Linked DNA regions of Homo sapiens. The protein of the gene in region 2 purifies or fractionates together with the protein of the main gene of each other region. This does not show direct contact. Each region holds a gene or a part of one and is shown on either strand. Other genes may lie near its edges.

Region 1 (5,055 bases), on a different chromosome or scaffold from region 2:
GTGTTGTAAAACCAGGCAGAACGGGCTGGAGAGAGACTCTCGTGGACTTGGAGGATGAATAAGCATTCCTTAATTAGCCCATCAGGTTAAGTGCAAGCATTAATGGGCCCTTCCTAAAGTCTAGCTTGACATCTTTCTCCAAACATGGCCAAGAAGAAAGTTCCATTAGCAATATTAATACAAGCTTAGTTGATCATTTTCATTCAATTAACTTCTTTCAATTAAATAGATAGCTTGACAAAAGCAGTGATAAAAGACCCAAAGGGACAGCTGATGACTCGAACTGAACATTAGTGTGCGAGAGGTCGCTGGTATTAAACGGACTGTAAATCTAGCATTCAATTTGGAAAATGCATTTCTTCTGCTCTCACTCCTTTAATGAGCAATTTTAGCTGACTAGATGTGTTTGCTGCAGAAATTTCATGGGAAGTCAAGCACCCTTTTCCTTTTCTTTTTTTCCATCCCAACAGTTACATTCTCACTGGTGGTGGTTTCCTGCCAACATTCCAGCCACAGTAACTCAAAACTTCACTTTCTGGTTAAGAACGAAGATATGTTAAAATAATTTATATACAACTAGCATTAAAAATTAATGACCTACTTTACGTTGTTAATCAATTTTTGAAAGGTTTGAAAAAACAATAAAATCTAAGAAATATTTAGTGAAAAATAAAAACATTTTAAAAACTGTATTTATATTTCATCGTGTCACAGTTAAGTAGTTAGGGCCACATAGAAAAGATGCATGTAACAAGGTTTAAAAACATGGTTTTAAGTGAGGCAAATGTAAATTAAAATGAAAGTAATTTTAGTTAATTAAATTACCTTAATTAATCAAAAGTACTAAAATTACTTTTCTTAATTAAAAAGGTATATAGGCCAGCTGCAGTGGCTCACGCCTATAATCCCAGCACTATGGGAGGCAGAAGCAGGAGGAATCCATGAGGCCAGGAATTTGAGACCAGCCTGGGTAACACAGTGAGACTCTGTCTCTACAAAAAAACTAATAAATTAGCTGGGTGTGGTGGCATGTGCCAGTAGCCCCAGCTACTCAGGAGGCTGAGGTGAGAGGATTGCTTGATCCCAGGAGTTCAAGGCTGCAGTGGAGTATGATGGTGTCATTGCACTCCAGCCTGGGAGACACATCAAGTCCATGTATCAAAAAAAAAAAAAAAAAAAAAAAAAAAAAAAAAAAAAGTCTTGCAAATTAAAACATGTCTGAAACAAACCTGCATTTTTATTCCTCTGCAACGAGTCAAGACAAAAGTTTGTACATTTTTCAATGTCAGTAAACAAAAAAATACATATACTCTATACCTTAAATAACTGAATCCATCTTTTCTGTTCCATCTGTATGCATTGTTGCATTTCAGAGCTAGTAGTAACTCCAATACTCTGAAATGCTGTAATATATTCTTCTCGAACTTCTGGCTTGGTTTCTGGATAAGCCAACTTGATGATCCCCAGGCATGCATCTCGAAGGCATCGAGACAACATTATCAGCTCTTCTAAAGTAAAAGGCATCATTGATGATTGTCTTTGACCTACAACTAAAAAACACAATCCAGTTTTCTATTGTTTCTTTTTCCATCTTTTAACACACACTGAAAGACTTAAAAAGCTTAAAACTTTTCTACTGTCTATGAAAACTGATGGGCCAAGTGGCCAGCAGCAAACTGGTTTCTCAAAATCCTTACCTTCTATGGGATCACCGAAGAATTCGTTATCATGTATGGAAATTAGTGAATGACTAAACAAGGAGCTAAAAAGATAAAAGAGTGGGATGATTCGACTAGAATCTTCAAAAGACATAGGAGAACCCCTGGATATCACCTGAAGCAACGGTACCATAGACCTTGAATTAAAGAAAAGAAGAAAAAAACCAGTCACTTTAAAATTAGTCTTAGTTTGGGAACTAATTAAAACATAACATCAAACAAATATAATCAGGGAAAGTAACATTTGCATTAGGAATTAAACTATTTAAAGGCAAGGTAAAGTCACCATGGCAATGCAGGTTAATAAACAGCATAGATTAATACAAAAAATAGCATACCAACCCATTAATCTTCACTAAGGTTTCTGCTACCTGTACCAACTAGATAATGAAGTTACTAAGAGTAAGCCAGTCGTTCCCAGACTAAGGCCCTAAGAAGAGCTCTAATAAGGCCACTATTCAAGACACACATGTACTTTACTCTTATGAGGAAACCATCCCCCTTCCCTTCTACTCAACATATTTAATAAAGGCAAATCATTCTGGTCTCAGGAAAAATTTATCCAGCGACTTAACTTTTGGTAACGTTGAAAGCTATTCAATATTGAAGCCAAACTGGAACCTCAAGAAACAAAGTTTCCAGTTCTCTATGGTGGCCTTGCTCCCACTGTCCACTTTATTCACCAGCTCCCATCCTGCTCCTGCTTTCACAGCAGCTAAGGTGGTCTTTACTCAGCAGCCTTTCACCCATCAAGAGCTATGATATATTAAATTAATTAGCCAGGTGTGGTGATAGGTGCCTGTAGTCCTTCCTAGTTACATAGGAGGCTGAGGCAGGAGAATGGCTTGAGCCCAGGAGGCAGAGGTTGCCATGAGCTGAGATTGCGCCACTGCACTCCAGCCTGGGGAACAGAGCCAGACTCTGTTTCAAAGAAGTTTAAAATATTAAGGAAAAAAAAAAAGAAAAGAAAAAAGGCTGGGTATGGTGGCTCACGCCTGTAATCCCAGCACTCTGGGAGGCCGAGGTGGGTGGATCACAAGGTCAAGAGTTCGAGACCAGCCTGGCCAACATGGTGAAACCCCATCTCTACTAAAGATACAAAAAATTAGCTGGGTGTGGTGGCACGTGCCTGTAATCCCAGCTACTTGGGAGGCTGAGGCAGGGGAATCACTTGAACCCGAGCAGCGGAGGTTGCAGTGAGCCGAGATCGTGCCATTGCACTCCAGCCTGGGCAACAGGGCGAGACTCCGTTTCCAAAAAAAATAAATAAATAAAAAAGAGCTACGATATATTAAATTGACTTATTTCACCTAGAACTTCTTCCTTTTCTCTCGTTTTTAAGTCTGGTTCCTTGTCTTATGGAACTTTTAGCTAATAGGCTCACCTGCAAGCTCTTTCTATAAAGTCCATGGTCCCCTCTACCAAGTCAAATCAATCACAGGTTAACAGACACTGTGAGCAAGATCACTCTCTTATCTCCCCAAATATCCATTTCCACAAAACTACAGGTATATATTAGATGAGATGTAACCAGGAGTCAGGATCTACAAATCATGTATGAAAGCAAAGCAGAAGGTAAGGCCACTTGTTCTAATTAGCGGGGCCGTAAGGAGCTTGGCTGAGCCACCTGGAGCTTCTGAGTCTCCATGGTGCATGGTTCAGGGGAGGGCACTGCCATCATCAACCGCTTTGAGAAAAGGAACCCATATGTGCACCTGAAACTGTGTTCCCACAGAGAAGATACACTATGTCCACATGCTACACAACCTGAGCATACATGATCCATGTTTGCAGTTGTGATACTCTGCATTTAGCACTATGCTGAACAGATTCATCAATGAATGAATGCCATTCTTCCAAAATTTAAACATTGTGGGACATTCAAAAAGGGACAAAGCACAATTGTCCTACCTCATTGCCAAAGCCAGGATGACACAAAAAGGTTGTTTATATGGAGGATAAAAAAGGCACAGGGCTGCCTTAACTGGACAGGGGTGGCTTCTTTCAACAGCCCTGCCTATGACAGCTGGAGCCCACTCCTGCGTCTTGATGAGCCTGCTTTCCACTGTTATCCCCGACAAGAATCCTTGTACTTGTACTGTTATCCCTGACAAGAATCATCACCACCAACACATCATCAGTTATGCACACATATTGCAGGATGCATAAAATTCTTATATTGGGTCCAAAAAAAAAAGGGACAGGGTAATTAACCAACAAAAACTTATTTGTCCTCTTCAAACCCCCTGTGAAACAAGCAAAAGGAATGCATCATTTTTACTTTAATGACAAAAACTGGGATTGGCAAGGATATGTGCCAATGCTGCCCTGCAGACAGGGCACAAACGAGACACAGGTCTCTTAGTTCTCTGCTGACCATTCTTTCTGCTATAAACACTGACTCAAATATTCCTCTGAAAACAGGTCAGTCTCAAAGACTTATGTGCAAATAAAGTCTGCAACTTACTGTAATGGAAAAGACACTGATTCACACATAACTCAGGGGAGCTAGGTGAATTACTGACCATCAGTGAGACCCGAGGCAATCCCTAACCTCTGTCTAGATCTTGAGAACAAGGGTTTTCAAATTGCGTGCCTGTGGGAACCACTCCTCCTCCTCGTCCAATGTCCCCCACCCTTGCAAAGAGCTTTTAAGAACGGATTCTTGCTTTAACAGGTTTTCAGAATACTACTGTAGACTGTTTTGAGATTATTTATCAAACAGCCAACACCAGCACCTACTGCCCACACTGAAGACATCTGGGCAAAGCATCTCTATGTTATGTTGTAGTCAAGGGATGCCTAATGGAAAACAGTACCAGCTGGCTATGGGTTCCCTCATCTTCAAGAAGAAGGAAACTAAACTGGCTGATTTCAATAGCAAGTACTGAAAATGAGGTAAATGAATAAAGATGTTATTTGCAAAATGTCTGATGTGTCAAAATTCACTATCCATCTGGAGATTGTTTAAATGTGGTCTGCTAGACTGGGGTGAAGAATAGTGCTTCTCGGTTGGCCCCCAAACCATCTGTACCTCGATTACCTGATAAGCTTGTGAGGTTGCAGTCTCCAGGGTTTCTAACCCAAGTCTTAGGGCAGGAACAGAGAAGCTGAAATTTTTTTTTTTTTTTTTTTTGAAACAAAGTTTCCCTCTTGTTACCCAGGCTGGAGTGCAATGGCGCAATCTCGTCTCAGGAGAATATGCATTTTAACACGCTCCCCTGATGATACTTCTGCCCACTAAAGCTGTAAGTCCTAGCAATGCAAGCCTTACTGTTAAACTATTTTTGACTTAAATTGAGTGCCAGTTTCAGAAAATCAGTTATTTCATTTTAAA
Region 2 (5,055 bases):
GATATTAGGGTGGACATAAGACTTAAACAGAACAGCAAAAGCACTGAACAGAAAGAAAAAGATTGACAAAATCTGGTTACACTGAAATTAGAAGTTTCTTCCACTGAAAGACATTCAGAGAGTGAAAAGGCCACATAATGCGAGAAGATATTTACAACACATATAACCAACAGAGGTTCATATTTAAATGATTCCTATATTGAATGTAAAGAAGAAACAATTCCACAGAAAAATGGGCAAACAACTTGCACGGACACTGCCCAAAATGGATACCCAAATGGCCAATAAATAAATGAAAAGGCACTTGATAACATTAGTCATCAGAATCATGAGGAAATATCACTACATTAGCTAAATTAAAATTACAGATATTACCAAATGTTGGCAAAGATTTGGAGCAGTAAGAACTCTCATACCCATAGGGTTGGTGAGAATGTATATTTGCATATACATTTTGGAAAACTACTTGGCATTATCTACTTAACTTTAAGATATGGATACTCTATGATTTAAATATTCCATTCCCAGGTTTATACCCGATGGAAGTGTGTGTGCTTGTGCACCAGAGACATATATGAGAATATTCATGGTAGAATTACTTGTAGTAGTCCCAAACTATAGACAATTCAAAATGTCCATCAGCAGTAGAATGAATAAATAAACAGACATACTCATACAATGGAATATGATACAGTAATGAAAATGAATGAACTGTAACCAAATGGAATAAATCTAACAAACATAACGCTATGTGAAGAAAACCAGACAGAAAGGAAAGTATTCTATGTGATTCCATTTATATAATGCTTAAAAATGAGGCAAAACTATTAACAAAATATATATGTTTAAGGATATATCCTTAGGTGATAAAAGTACAAAGGAAAGTAAGAAAGTAATTGCCATAAACAGTCAGGATAGTTGTCTTTGGTGGAGGCAGAGCCTGTAGTTATTGAGAGGGGGCATGTAGGGTGTTTTTGGGGTACAGAAAATGTTGTATTTCTTTACCCTTAAGGTGGTTACACGGTGGTTACGAATCTGTTTGTCATACTTGAGCTGTACTTTTTCATTTCATGCACAGTTCTGTATGTTATAATTTACTTTAAAAAACAAGATAGTGGGGCCAATAAAACAAATGATGACCTAGTATTATGCTGAGAGCAAATAAGGTACCAGTCCTGAATACATATCTGGGACATTTATTGGTAGCTTCCCTCTCCGTTTATAGCCTAAATAATGCATTCACAGGGCTGTAGTGATAAATTGTCAAAATGAGGAAATGAAAATATGTCCCACTTTTTGATGCCTATTCAGGTTTAAGAGTTTTATAGGCATTTGTCATTACTGGTCAGCTTTGATTTTAAGATCTGACTTAAGGGAAGATCTTGAAAGACAAGCACTTTGTGAGAGAGCTAGGCTTTACATACTGCAGCACAGCGCTGGGACTGGTATTATTTGTGGCTACTACAAATGAAAGAAAATCAGAGCCAGCATTTTCAAACAACATTCTCTGAAATATTTATTATGTTGAGTCCTCAGAGATATTTGCAAGAATTCCTTTAAGTTATTGTAACAAAAGTTCAAGGTGGGTTTATCAGAAACAAATCCCATTCACTCTCTATGTGCTAGTATTGAACCTTGAATCTACTGCATTTTTTTCAATAACTATAAGTTATATCATTTAAGTGCTGACAATTTAATGAAAAGAAAAGCTTTTACAAGAAAGATTAGAGGTCAGAAGGGTTTATCCTGGTAATAAGAGCCAAGAGTGGCATCGAGTTGTCTTGGCATATGAGATTATTCTGCATATCGAATTGTTACCACAAATCCAAAACTCAATATATTTAACTTAAAATTGTAATGGCAAGTTGGTTCTGCTGACACCTTCCTGGTCATCCCAGACCTTATAAATGTAAATTTTATGTAAAGCTTTAATAAAATACACATTCGTTGAATATCTACCATGTGGACTTGAATATCTTAGTGGACTGGAAAATTCAGCCTCTATGAATATAACATATGTGAAGAACACACACACACACACACACACACACACACACACACACACACACACACAGTGACCATGGGTTGAAAGTAGCATGCTCTGCTTAACATTGTACATGCTCAGGACTCATCTTCATAAGGACCTTGCAAGGTGGCCATTTGTTACTTTTTAGAGAAAAGGAAGCTGAGGATCAGAAAGGTTGTTATATCCCTGAGGTCACAGAACTAAATGACATTGACCATGGACAAACAGAATACACCTTTACCTGATGGTTCCCAGGTACAGGACAAACACATGGTTTTGTCTTGTACATCTCTAAGTTGCATACTTGCTTTGAAAGACTCAGTCTATTTGTGTAAAGATATATTAATATTTACCCTTTCAAATGGAAGTGAAAGCTAAATCTGCACTACCACAAATGTAGGAATGATTTGTCCACAACTTGCACAGAAAATAAATATTTTCTAGGCAAGAGTCACATAGCAAGTTCTCTGAATGGAAGAGGCAGGCTCTGCTTCCTGGAAGTATTTTCCTTTGAAATGCTGGCAAAGGGGAACTTCAGAGGCAGAGAGCCTGGTGTGAAGCTCTGTGGGGTAACTGAAATGCAGTACGCCAAGTTCCTACCTTCTGATTGATTTTTATTGTCTCTTCTGTGTGGTAGAGGAGGAGCTTTTCCCCGGAAGAAGTCAGGTTAACGTACACCTGGAGGCAGGGGTACTGAGAAAGTTTCCAGCAGTCTGGACCACAGCTGAAGGAGCAATTAAATGTTTCCGTGATGGACGCATTCAGCAAGGTGCATTGAGACTCTTCGGTCCACACGCTGCAGAGAAAGGGGTGAGAGTAAACACAGGCCCAAGAGCTAATAGTGAGAAAGGTATAGTCCGAGGGAATTATTTCTCATCTCCTGAAGCTGAAAAATCTTTTCTAAATCTCTAATATGATCTATCTGTGTAAAGTTTAGGCCTTCGAATAGAACAGCTTTAAGCAAACTACCGTATAACATAGACAAACGTGGACACGTGAGAACGTTTTCAATGACTTCCATTGGATATGGTATTCTCCAGTGCTTGACTTAAGTTCTTTTTTCCCTTATGGAACTCACTGGTAACATGAGGCATACTTTAAAATCATCACCTGTCCTCACCCTGTATTTCTACATTGTAGGCAGCTTCTTGACATGCTCCAGCCCCTACCTCTGTATGTTTTACTTTGTACTTTCTGCATCCCAGCTCCCTCCCCAGCCCAGTTTGTAGGCACAGAAGGTGTGAGGGAGAAGGAGGGGAGAGATGGCAAAGGAGTGGAGGGTCATGTGGTCCAGCTTGACAGAGATGGAAGGACAGTGACAGAATGCCTTAAGGTCTTTCTAATAAGGGAAAAAAGATAACTCAACCCTTTCATTATGTCATGAGCAATCACTTACTGCACATTCCTTTCACCCTAATTGGTAATTTACATACATTACCTTCTTTTGTTCTCTCAACAGCTGTGCAAGTTGGGTAGTAATTTCTTTTTAAAAGTGAGTGAACTGAGAAATCCCATGACATATGCAAGGACATATGGGCAGTAAGTGTTGGAAATTGTGATCCAATCTTGTAATTCTCTAAGGCCCAGGCTCATTCTATTGTGTTTTGCTGTCTCCCCACAAACACAATGGAAAAGAAACCCTTTTATGCAGACTAATGGATGAATAAGGGTGCCCTGTTATCTCTCACCTGGAAGGATTCCAGCTGCCCATTGGTCAACTGGTCATTTAAAAATACCTTTAATTTTATGATCAAGATTAACATTTGTAATTAGGAATTAACACACCAGCAATTGATGGTTTGGTTTTGGGTATAAGCTGATCACCATAGCAATGGGAAAACATGTTTTCTTTGCAGATTAATACGCTTTCCTTTTGTTGGACAGGCATCCACAGCTTCCTACCCCTTTGCATGTGTGAAGTTTTATTCCAGAAGCAGGATACTAGACCTGATCCCCTCCCTTGGTGTGGCAAACTGTATTTTCCTGGAACATGGGTGGTCACATTTTGCTTATATACTGAGGAAAAAGTCTCTGATGGTTCTAACCAGATGTGAAGAGCTGAAAGCATTTTGGAATCAACGACCACTTGGGGCCTGAGGCATCAGCACTTTCATAGAAAATGAGCACAGCTGAAGGCCATCAGAGAAACAGAGCAGAGCAGCCACAAATGTGAAAGACGATGCCTTAATTTCAGCAAATTACTGTATTTCAGCTAGATTTTGCTTCTAAAATGAAAGTATTAATTTAGATGGAGAAACAAATGCCACAAAATGGTTTCATTTTCTTTTGGATTGAAACCTCAATTTTTCATTTGAAAAGGTCTTGTTTCTTTAAGCTGAACTGCTGTGAGACTTCATTCGATACATCAGGGCTGGGCTTGCCTGTGTTTAGAGTGTCCAATTTATGGACAACAGTTAGCTAGAGATGCTGGTGGGATTTACTACATGGCTTACTGAGGACAGGAGTACACTTGCTATCCCACAATTTATTTGCCTCCCTATCCATTCAATACACCTACAGCAAATATTGAAATGAAAAGATTCAAAATCTGTTATTTTTAAAAGTTGATGCATAGCAGTGTTTCTCAGCCTAGAAGGCCCATTAGAACAACCTGGGGAGCTTTAATAGATACTGGTGACTGGGTCCCACTCCGGACCAATTAAATCTGACCTTCTGGGTTGATGATGATGGGGGCTGGGTATTAGCATTTTTAAGAGTTTCTGGGGAAATTGGAATATACAGTTGAGAACCACTCACGTGGAAGGTGAGGGAGGGGTTGGTTGGGGTGGAAAAGGGAGGAGGGTGGGGAACGGACAGAAGTGTGAAGTGGCAGGAACAGTGACTTTGGAATAAGCGAGATGTGGGCTTGAATCTTAGCTCTGCCACAAGCAAGAGCTGTATGACACTGGGGAAATCATATCTCTCTTGAGCCTCAGTTTTGCCGTTTTTATAATGAGTATATTTATACTTACCTTATAGAGTAATTGTGATAATTAAAGAAGTAGAAGTCTTTGACACCTGGTATCCAG

Evidence for each region. Proteins that work in one complex are often made in the same cells at the same time.
Region 1: the proteins of KCNMB2 (region 2) and UBE3C purify together in Homo sapiens (affinity purification with mass spectrometry; one large-scale study listed by BioGRID and IntAct). This does not show direct contact.

What each region holds. Positions count from the first base shown.
Region 1 is NC_000007.14:157,204,198-157,209,252, reverse strand, and holds part of UBE3C (ubiquitin-protein ligase E3C), read right to left. Parts: intron 1,856-5,055; coding exon 1,698-1,855; intron 1,551-1,697; coding exon 1,318-1,550; intron 1-1,317. UniProt on the Homo sapiens protein: E3 ubiquitin-protein ligase that specifically catalyzes 'Lys-29'- and 'Lys-48'-linked polyubiquitin chains.
Region 2 is NC_000003.12:178,825,945-178,830,999, reverse strand, and holds part of KCNMB2 (calcium-activated potassium channel subunit beta-2), read right to left. Parts: intron 2,823-5,055; coding exon 2,627-2,822; intron 1-2,626. UniProt on the Homo sapiens protein: Regulatory subunit of the calcium activated potassium KCNMA1 (maxiK) channel. Modulates the calcium sensitivity and gating kinetics of KCNMA1, thereby contributing to KCNMA1 channel diversity.